Linked DNA regions of Homo sapiens: region 1 is reported to be linked to region 2. Evidence: microRNA targets listed by miRTarBase, many of them from high-throughput screens and not tested one by one. Region 2 holds a microRNA gene; the other region holds the end of a gene's coding sequence.

Region 1 (4,000 bases), not on the chromosome of region 2:
ATTATTTCTTTTCCTTTGGGTAGTGATATGATTTGGTTCTGTATCGCTACCCAAATCTCATCAGTAGCTCCCATAATTCCCATGAGTTGTGGGAGGGACGCAGTAGGAGATGATTGAATCATGGGGGTGGGTCTTTCCCATGCTGTTCTTGTGATAGTGAATGGGTCTTATGAGACCTGATGGTTTTTAAAATGGGAGTTTCTCTACATAAGCTCTCTCTCTGCCTGCTGCCATCCATGCAAGATGTGACTTGCTCCTCCTTGCCTTCTGCCATGATTGTGAGGCCCCTCCAGCCAGGTGGAACTGTAAGTCCAATAAATCTCTTTCTTTTGTAAAATGCCCAGTCTTGGGTAGGTCTTTATCAGTGGCGTGAAAATGGATTAATACAGTAAATTAGTACCAGTTAGAATGAGTCATTGCTGAAAAGATACCTGAAAATGTGGAAGTGACTTTGGAACCGGGTAACAGGCAGAGGTTGGAACCATTTGGAAGGCTCAGAAGAAGACAGGAAGATGTGGGAAAGTTTGGAACTTCCTAGAGACTTCTTGAATGGCTTTGACCAAAATGCTGATAGTGATATGAACAATAAGGTCCAGGCTGAGGTGGTCTCAGATGGGGTTGAAGAACTTGTTGGGAACTGGAGTAAAGGTGACTCTTGCTATGTTTTATCTAAGAGACTGGTGGCATTTTGCCCCTGCCCTAGAGATTTGTGGAACTTTGAACTTGAGAGAGATCATTTAGGACATCTGGATGTTGGGAATGAAGTTTTTGGTGTCGAAAAAAAAAAAAAAAAAGAATGCAGGAACAAACAATCTCTCAGCCAGGTGAGCTTTACTTTCTGCAGAAAGGGTGCTACTCAGTAGCCATCCAGCCACGAGAGCACACCAAACAAAGGAGACAGAGTAATTTATAACCTGACATGTCTACCCTACTGCTGTGTCCAGTTTTCATTGGCTGGAATAGGACCTCACATTTTACACTTTACCTGATTGGTTATTAGTTTAAAACTTTCTTAATTAGGTAAGGGGAATAGAACAAAGAAAGAAAAGGAAGTTGCCCAGGGATACTTAAGGAAGCATCTCCAAATAAGGAGTGGCATGCACTATGGGCTGGGGCTTGTCTACTTCTGTCCAGGCATGCCGGAGCAAGCTAGGACAGCTGATTTGGAATATATATATATAATCCATTATATATATATATAAAATCCATTATATATATATATATATAAATAATCCACTATATATATATAATCCACTATATATATATATATAATCCACTATATATATATAGCAATCTTATAGTAAGAAATTGTGACTTTTTATAATCTTTGAAAAAGAACTCCCATTTCTCACATGGAGGAAGAAATTTCTAAGCAGTAAAGCTTTCAAGAGGTGACTTGGGTTGTTTTATGAAAGAAACAGAGCATAAAAGTTTGGAAAATTTGCAGCCTGTCAACGTGATAGAAAGAAAAACCTATCTTCTGAGGAGAAATTGAAGCTGGCTGCAGAAACTTGCATAAGTAATGAGGAGATGAATGTTAATCTCCAAGACAATGGGGAAAATGTCTCCAGTCTGTGTCAAGAGTTTTCACCAGAGCCCCTCCCATCACAGGCCTGGAGGCCTAGGAGAAAATGGTTTCCTGGGCCAGGCCCAGGTTCTGTTAGGCATACAGATACATAACAAGTTAGTCATGTGTGGGAATTAATAAATGAAGAAATTGTACTTGTAAATGCATCAAATGTTCACAAATCCAAGGTCAGTTTTCTTATTTTAAAAATAGAAGCAATGCCAGCTCCACAGGAATGGTTTTGAATATCAAATACTTACATGAAAGGACTTTGGAAGCTATGAAATACAACACAAATGTACAATAATAATAATAAATAACGTCACTGTAGAGAACTAGCCCTTTTCTCTACCTAAGGCTTTTTCTCAGGGGACTGGTGGAACAGAGGCTGACTTCATAGATAGAAAAATATCTAATTTCTACAAACAGGAGCTCTTTGAAAAAAAAAACAAAGCAAAGGAAACAAACCAAACAGAAACATTCAAATCCAAGAGGATAGCTCAGGGCTTTTTAATATAATTCTCATCTTGCCCTACTTCGAACAGGTTTTTAACAGAATATTGATACAACTAAAGAACAACAGAGTAAATACACATAGCATTTATACCATTTGAGGTATTTGGCTATGCTAGGTTTTTTTTTTTTTCTTTCCCTCAGTGGAACCACACATTGAGAAATATAGCTTTAGAACACAATATTCTATCAAAACCAGAAAACAGAGATTGTTTTATTTGAAAACATCAGATATGCAGTGATTCTTTCAATGTCATTTCTTTCACTTAAACCTTCAGGTTTATTAAGCCTCTGATTCTCAATTAGAATAAGTTCCCTAAGTCCCTGTCATAAATAGAATTATATCAACCTTTCACATCTCAGTCACATTGAGTTCTAATAAGTGTGCAACAATAAGACAGCTGAGTATGGAATGGCAATTGGAAAAATATTATACATTGCTTTTTGCCTATTTTAAAATTGAGTAATAAAAGGTATTTATTATTTTGCCATATAAGGTGCTGAGTTCAGGAATATTTTCATGGGAATCAAGTTTTTCCCTCAGGTGTTTGCTTAGTGTACTTCACAACTACTATTGATTCCTTTACAAAGTTGATCCATGAATATTCATTGATGGAAGAGGTCTTAGTGGTCATCTAGTGCTATCCATTTATTTTATAGATAAAGAAATCTCCTATGCTAGGTATTTTTATTTAGTTCATTTATTAGTATTACTAGTGGTAAGCAGTTATCTTATTAATCTGTTAACTTTTACTATACCTATTGAATAACAAGTTAATAGTTTTTAAAAAATTTATTTATTTTATCATATAAATTTGGAAGCACCCAGATTCCTCTACCACAACTAATTAAAATTATGGCATTTATTAGCCCTTGGTGGCAGAAAATTACAGCAAGTCTTTAATGAAATATTGAACATTAATTATAAATAATAAGTTTGCATCCTAGCAGGATGTACAGGTACCACTTAAACTATTCCAAAAACCACAAAGACAAATAATAATATTAGATACCTTAATATCACATGAAAATACCACTACCACCAATAAAAACTATGACAGTAACAGTAAAAACAAAAAAATACAAATTTTATTCAATGGTTGTTATGAACTTGGAATGATCTTAAGCACCTTACTATTTAAAACACAGAGATGGAAACATGTTTAGAAAATGAAAATTCCCTACTTTATTAGAATAACATGGTGAAATCTTAAGATTAATTAGACTGGTCAAATGTTTTTCAGTGTTTTTCCTGTCATGTCTTTATCTGTTCTTAGTGTCAAAGAGCCCACCTTACATGTTTTTTGTTTCTTTGTTTTACAAATTTAAATTGATTGAATAAGTATAGGAGAGAAGGGAATAAAAAACATTCCAATGGTGGTTTGCATATTTTCTTTCTTGTTAAAACTCAGTGTTTTACTTTTTTTTTTTTTCTGTCTTTTTTTGTATTACACTTTTGGTTTATATTGGTGATACATCTTTTTCCTCCTCTTTCTACTCTTATTTTTCCTCTTCCTCCATCTTTTCTTTTTGTGTTTCCTCCTCCTCCTCCTCTCTCTCTTCTTTTTCCTCCTCCATTTCCATTATTTCCATTTCCATTTCCTCTTTCTCTTTCTTCTCTTCCTCTTTTTCCTCCTCTTCATTCCCTGCTTCAGATTCCTCAGGGGTAAATATCATTTGTTGTTCCAACAAGATATTTGGAAACTGAGACTGTACTATCAAAACAGTTATGACACACAGGATAAAACATAATATTCTCAATAATAAAATGAATGTGCACAGTGGATCACACACAACTGGCCGGGGCATTTCCCATTTTGGATACCAAAATCGGTAATCTGTAAACAAAGAAGCAATTGAAAGCTGGATTTCATATAAAGCAGTTCAATTGTTCAAGAAATAAAGGACAACAATACATAC
Region 2 (4,152 bases):
TCCATAGTCATGAGAAAGAAGGTTGATCCTGCGGTTCTGGAGCCCCAGATGCCGCAAAAGCGCTTCCACGATGCTGGCCTGCTCAAATATGGAATAGTGATGTGGTCTCTGAGGAAAGGAAAGCCCACATACACAGGATGAAGTCATGAGGACAGCTCTCTCTGCCAGCCTGACCCTCATAGTCTGCGTCTGCCCCCACACCCCATCACCAGCCCCACATAGGTGCTGCTTACCGGTTTGTCACTGAAGCCAAAGCCTAAGAAATCAAGGGCAATCACCCGATGAAACCTCAAGGTCAGACCTTCCCAAATCTACAAGAAAGAAACGATGATTTGGGCTTTCTGCTCCTGCCCCTCCCTTTCACCAGACCTACAGTTGCACAGGAGCTTCAGCCCTATCTTGGCTTAACAGACTTCCATAAAGAGAAAACGCCATGAAACTACCACAGGTCCCACAGATGATCCTCTTGGAAAATGCTTTATTCCTGGTAATTAATCCCTGTTGAGGGAGGGTAACTTGGCAGTGATCCCTTCCAGAGTGCCAAGGAGTTGTTTATTCCCTTCAGTAAATAAGGAACAGTTCAACATTTAATGTTTTTTTAAAAGCAATTCAAATGTGCAAGAGCCTTCTGGTGCTGACAACAAAATCCTTGAGGTTTTTTAAATTTTTATTAAAAAAAAATTTTTTTTTGAGACAGACTCTCGCTCTGTCACCTAGGCTGAAGTGCAGTGGTGCAATCTCAGCTCACTGCAACCTCTGCCTCCCGGGTTCAAGCGATTCTCCTGCCTCAGCCTCCCAAGTAGCTGGGATTACAGGCTTGTGCCACCATGCCTGGCCAATTTTTATACTTTTAGTAGAGATGGGGTTTTGCCATGTTGGCCTGGCTGGTCTCAAACTCCTGACCTCAGGTCATCCTCCCACCTCAGCCTCCCAAAGTGCTAGGATTTGAGCCCCCGCGCCCGGCCGAGATTTTTTAAGACATAGTAGGACGTAGAAGTCTGACTTCATTACCTTGTACCAGTCGTAGCTGGATGTTGGAAAACCGTGTAAAAGCACAACTATCTCTGGACTTCCAACCACACCCACAGAGTCTAGGAAGAAGGAAAGTACAATCAATTATGCCAAATCCCTATAAAAATAACCTCGAAGATGTTAAAATCTAAGTAATCTGATACAAAGAACAAGCAACTGTGACCAAATTGACATTAAAATGACACAATTATTTGTAAAATGTAAGCTTAACTGCGTTAGGTGAGAACAGGCCTTTTCTCCTTTCAATCTGTATATTAAAACATTGTAAAAATCATGCTATGTGAAAATACTTGAAGGCACCTTGTTTACTTTCACCTAGGTGTTTTTAAACAGCATCTCCCCATTTCTCCTTTTGTTCTGTAATATGCAAATTTTTTCAGTGAAAAGTAAATTTTCAGTTAAAAGCATATGATCACAACACATAAACTACAAATTCTTTGTACTTTATCATGAATGGCCTCACAGAAATTCTCTAAGATACAGCAACTATTCCCAAGGAACACCTTTAGCTTATGCTGTTTGCTCAGCACTTTTTATTCAGCAGGAGACCCAATCTAACATCAAAAACATAATAAAACTATTACAAAATCCTGTCAACTATAAAAAGGGCTTAATCAACATAAACATGAACTTTTTTAATGCATATGACAATATGGAAGCATTCAGCATCATCTAAATTAGGTAAACATTTAGACAATATTAACCTTGCTAATAGTATGGGATTAGAACAGGTATATTCATATACTGCCAGTGACATGAAAATTTGGTAATAAGGTTTTCAAAAATAATTTAGAAGCAGTTAAAAATTGTATATACTTTAGCCTAAGAGTTTTGTTCTTGAGAATCTGTGCAAATAAAATCATTCCATTTATACAAGTAGTATAGTTTGAAAATGTAAGGAAAAAATAAACTGTATGGACATGAAGCTTTTACTTCAACATTAGTTTTCTAAAACAGTAAAACTGGAAGTAACCCAAGCCAACATAATAAAAATTGTATACTTACTTAATTGAATATAGCAAATGAGAGGAGGTCAGGAGCAATAATGAAAAACGGTTTATGACAAACATTTTTCGTTATTGCTCTTGACCCCCGCTCAAAACAAATCATTTCCAATCTGTTTCTCAGTTTCTTCACCTATAAAATGAGGTTAATGGCACCTATCTCCAAATGCTGTTGTAAAGATTAAACAATGAAGGCTGAAAACATAACTCAGTGCCTGGCATATGGTAATTACTTGATAAGTAGTGGTCATAATAATCATCATCACTAGCAAATTAATTTATATAATGGTATCAAGACTTAAATCACAGTTACACTACAAATAATCTACAGAAAAAATGAAATCAGGGATGGTAAGGAGAGAGAACCAATGGTGGTTATATCTATTAATATTTTATATATTACCTGACAGGTTGCTCAAAAAAAAAAAAAAACTAATATTGGAATACATATCAAGCTACAAAGAAAACTTATACTAAAAGGTAAGGTCTGCAGGTTGGAATCTCAGTCCCTACCCCCATTCTCCCAGCAGTTTTCTGCGCTTCTCTGCAAGCACACTACACAGAAAGAGAGAGAGATACTCTCCTCCATCATTAAGGAGCAACAAGAGACCAATAGCCACAAAATAAATACCTCAGCTGGGACTTATGTGACCGATACACGCAGGACTTCCAATAGTCCACTTCTTACCTTGGTAGAAGATACGCAGTCCCTTGTAAGTGAAAAACTTGCCTGAAGACTTCCATGAGTGAAGGGCAGGGGAGAGCTGAGGGGGTGGGATGTGCAGGTACGCAGCAAGCAGGGGCACGGCCAGCAGCCCCACCTGGACCCACCACTCCCTCATCCTGTAGGAAAAGCAGAGACCCACTGTAAGCAGTCAGGTAACATTGTCCACTCATCTACAAACCAAAACCTGGTAAGATGGGGTGGGAGATTGCTGTTACCATGCAATGATTACATTGCCCTTCACATAGGCACAAAGCTGACCGAGACTATAATCAAACCTCTGTCTGCCATAGCACTCACCATATTTGTTCATCATTCTAATCTTAAGGAAAAAAAATACATTATTTCAACATATAATCTTCTGCCTCTGCTCCCCGACTTTAACCCCTTAGCCCCTACCCTTGTGGTCTTCCCAATACCTGCTGAAGAGGACTTTATATAAATAAAAGGGACATGACTTAAATGCTGGACACTCTTTCGTTGACTTTTATCAAGGCTTCCCAGGAAAAAAATAACTTCTTTCTTATTTACTCCAAAAGCTCTACCATCTACCCACTACCCCCAACCAGTAAAATGTTCAAAAAATATATATGTGCTATATCTCATGTTTTAAAGAGTGTGTGTGTGTAGTAACTTATCACATGTCCTCAAGCAGAGAGCTACTCCTGATTTTCAGCCCTCCTGCCTAAATGAAGCCCCATTTAGTACTCCTTTCTGGATTTGGGCTGAGAAACTGCTCAGGGTAAACAGTCTGTGAAAGTAAGATAGCTGCACTGTGTATTCCAACATAAGCAGCTTTGTCATGACCCTGAATATCTAATCTCTTGAGAGGTCAAGGCGGTAGATTACATTTCTGCTTTTCTTAGCAGACTCTTTAAGTTTCCATTTAATTTCCTAAGATGCTCCCCCACCCCCAGATAAGGCATAACTCATACCCAGCGTGTGAGAATTGATTTTGTCTTTGGAAAAAGAGCACTGGTTGGTACACCCAACCCTCCCATGCCCAGGACTTCAAAGGCACAAGTCAGTTTATCCACATTGACAAGGAGTGCCAAACAGGAATTATAAACCGTTCTGTTTCAAGTCTATGACTTCTGATGGTCAACAGATCAAGAATTGTCAGTAGAATGGAAGTTCTCTCAAAACAGCCAGAATGGAAATAATACCCTCCAAAACTAAAATTAGAGTTGTCATAGAGCTGAAATAAATTAATTGCTAAAGCCCTGGGGGAAATGGCTTTCCGTCTGTACACACATTCTTCCCTATTGCCTGTAATCTACCTACCCGTTCGCTAACTTCCTCAACTTACAAGATACTTTTCCCCCCCATATCCCTGATACTTTTTGCTAAAATCTAAAAACAAGCCTGTGGTTTTACAGTGGTAAAATAACC

What was found. Region 2 holds the annotated microRNA hsa-miR-335-3p (UUUUUCAUUAUUGCUCCUGACC, at 2,064-2,085, opposite strand). A microRNA usually pairs through its seed, bases 2 to 8, with sites in the 3' UTR of a target mRNA and lowers its output. Matches are read on the target gene's strand: a 7mer-m8 pairs with bases 2 to 8, a 7mer-A1 pairs with bases 2 to 7 and ends in A, and an 8mer does both.
Region 1: the mRNA of GLIPR1L2 is a reported target of hsa-miR-335-3p. Seed matches in the 3' UTR shown: 7mer-A1 at 3,317-3,323 and 7mer-m8 at 2,596-2,602.

The regions. Positions count from the first base shown.
Region 1 is chr12:75,430,742-75,434,741 of GRCh38, reverse strand. It overlaps GLIPR1L2 (GLIPR1 like 2), which reads right to left. Exons shown (of 6, transcript NM_001270396.2): 6 at 2,054-3,918. The coding sequence ends at 3,581. Among named protein-coding and RNA genes, the nearest start is that of GLIPR1L2, 42 kb to the right of the region's middle.
Region 2 is chr7:130,494,095-130,498,246 of GRCh38, reverse strand. It overlaps MIR335 (microRNA 335), which reads right to left and starts at 2,136; the gene lies at 2,043-2,136. MEST (mesoderm specific transcript) reads right to left here. Exons shown (of 12, transcript NM_002402.4): 2 at 2,725-2,879; 3 at 1,012-1,091; 4 at 234-311; 5 at 1-108.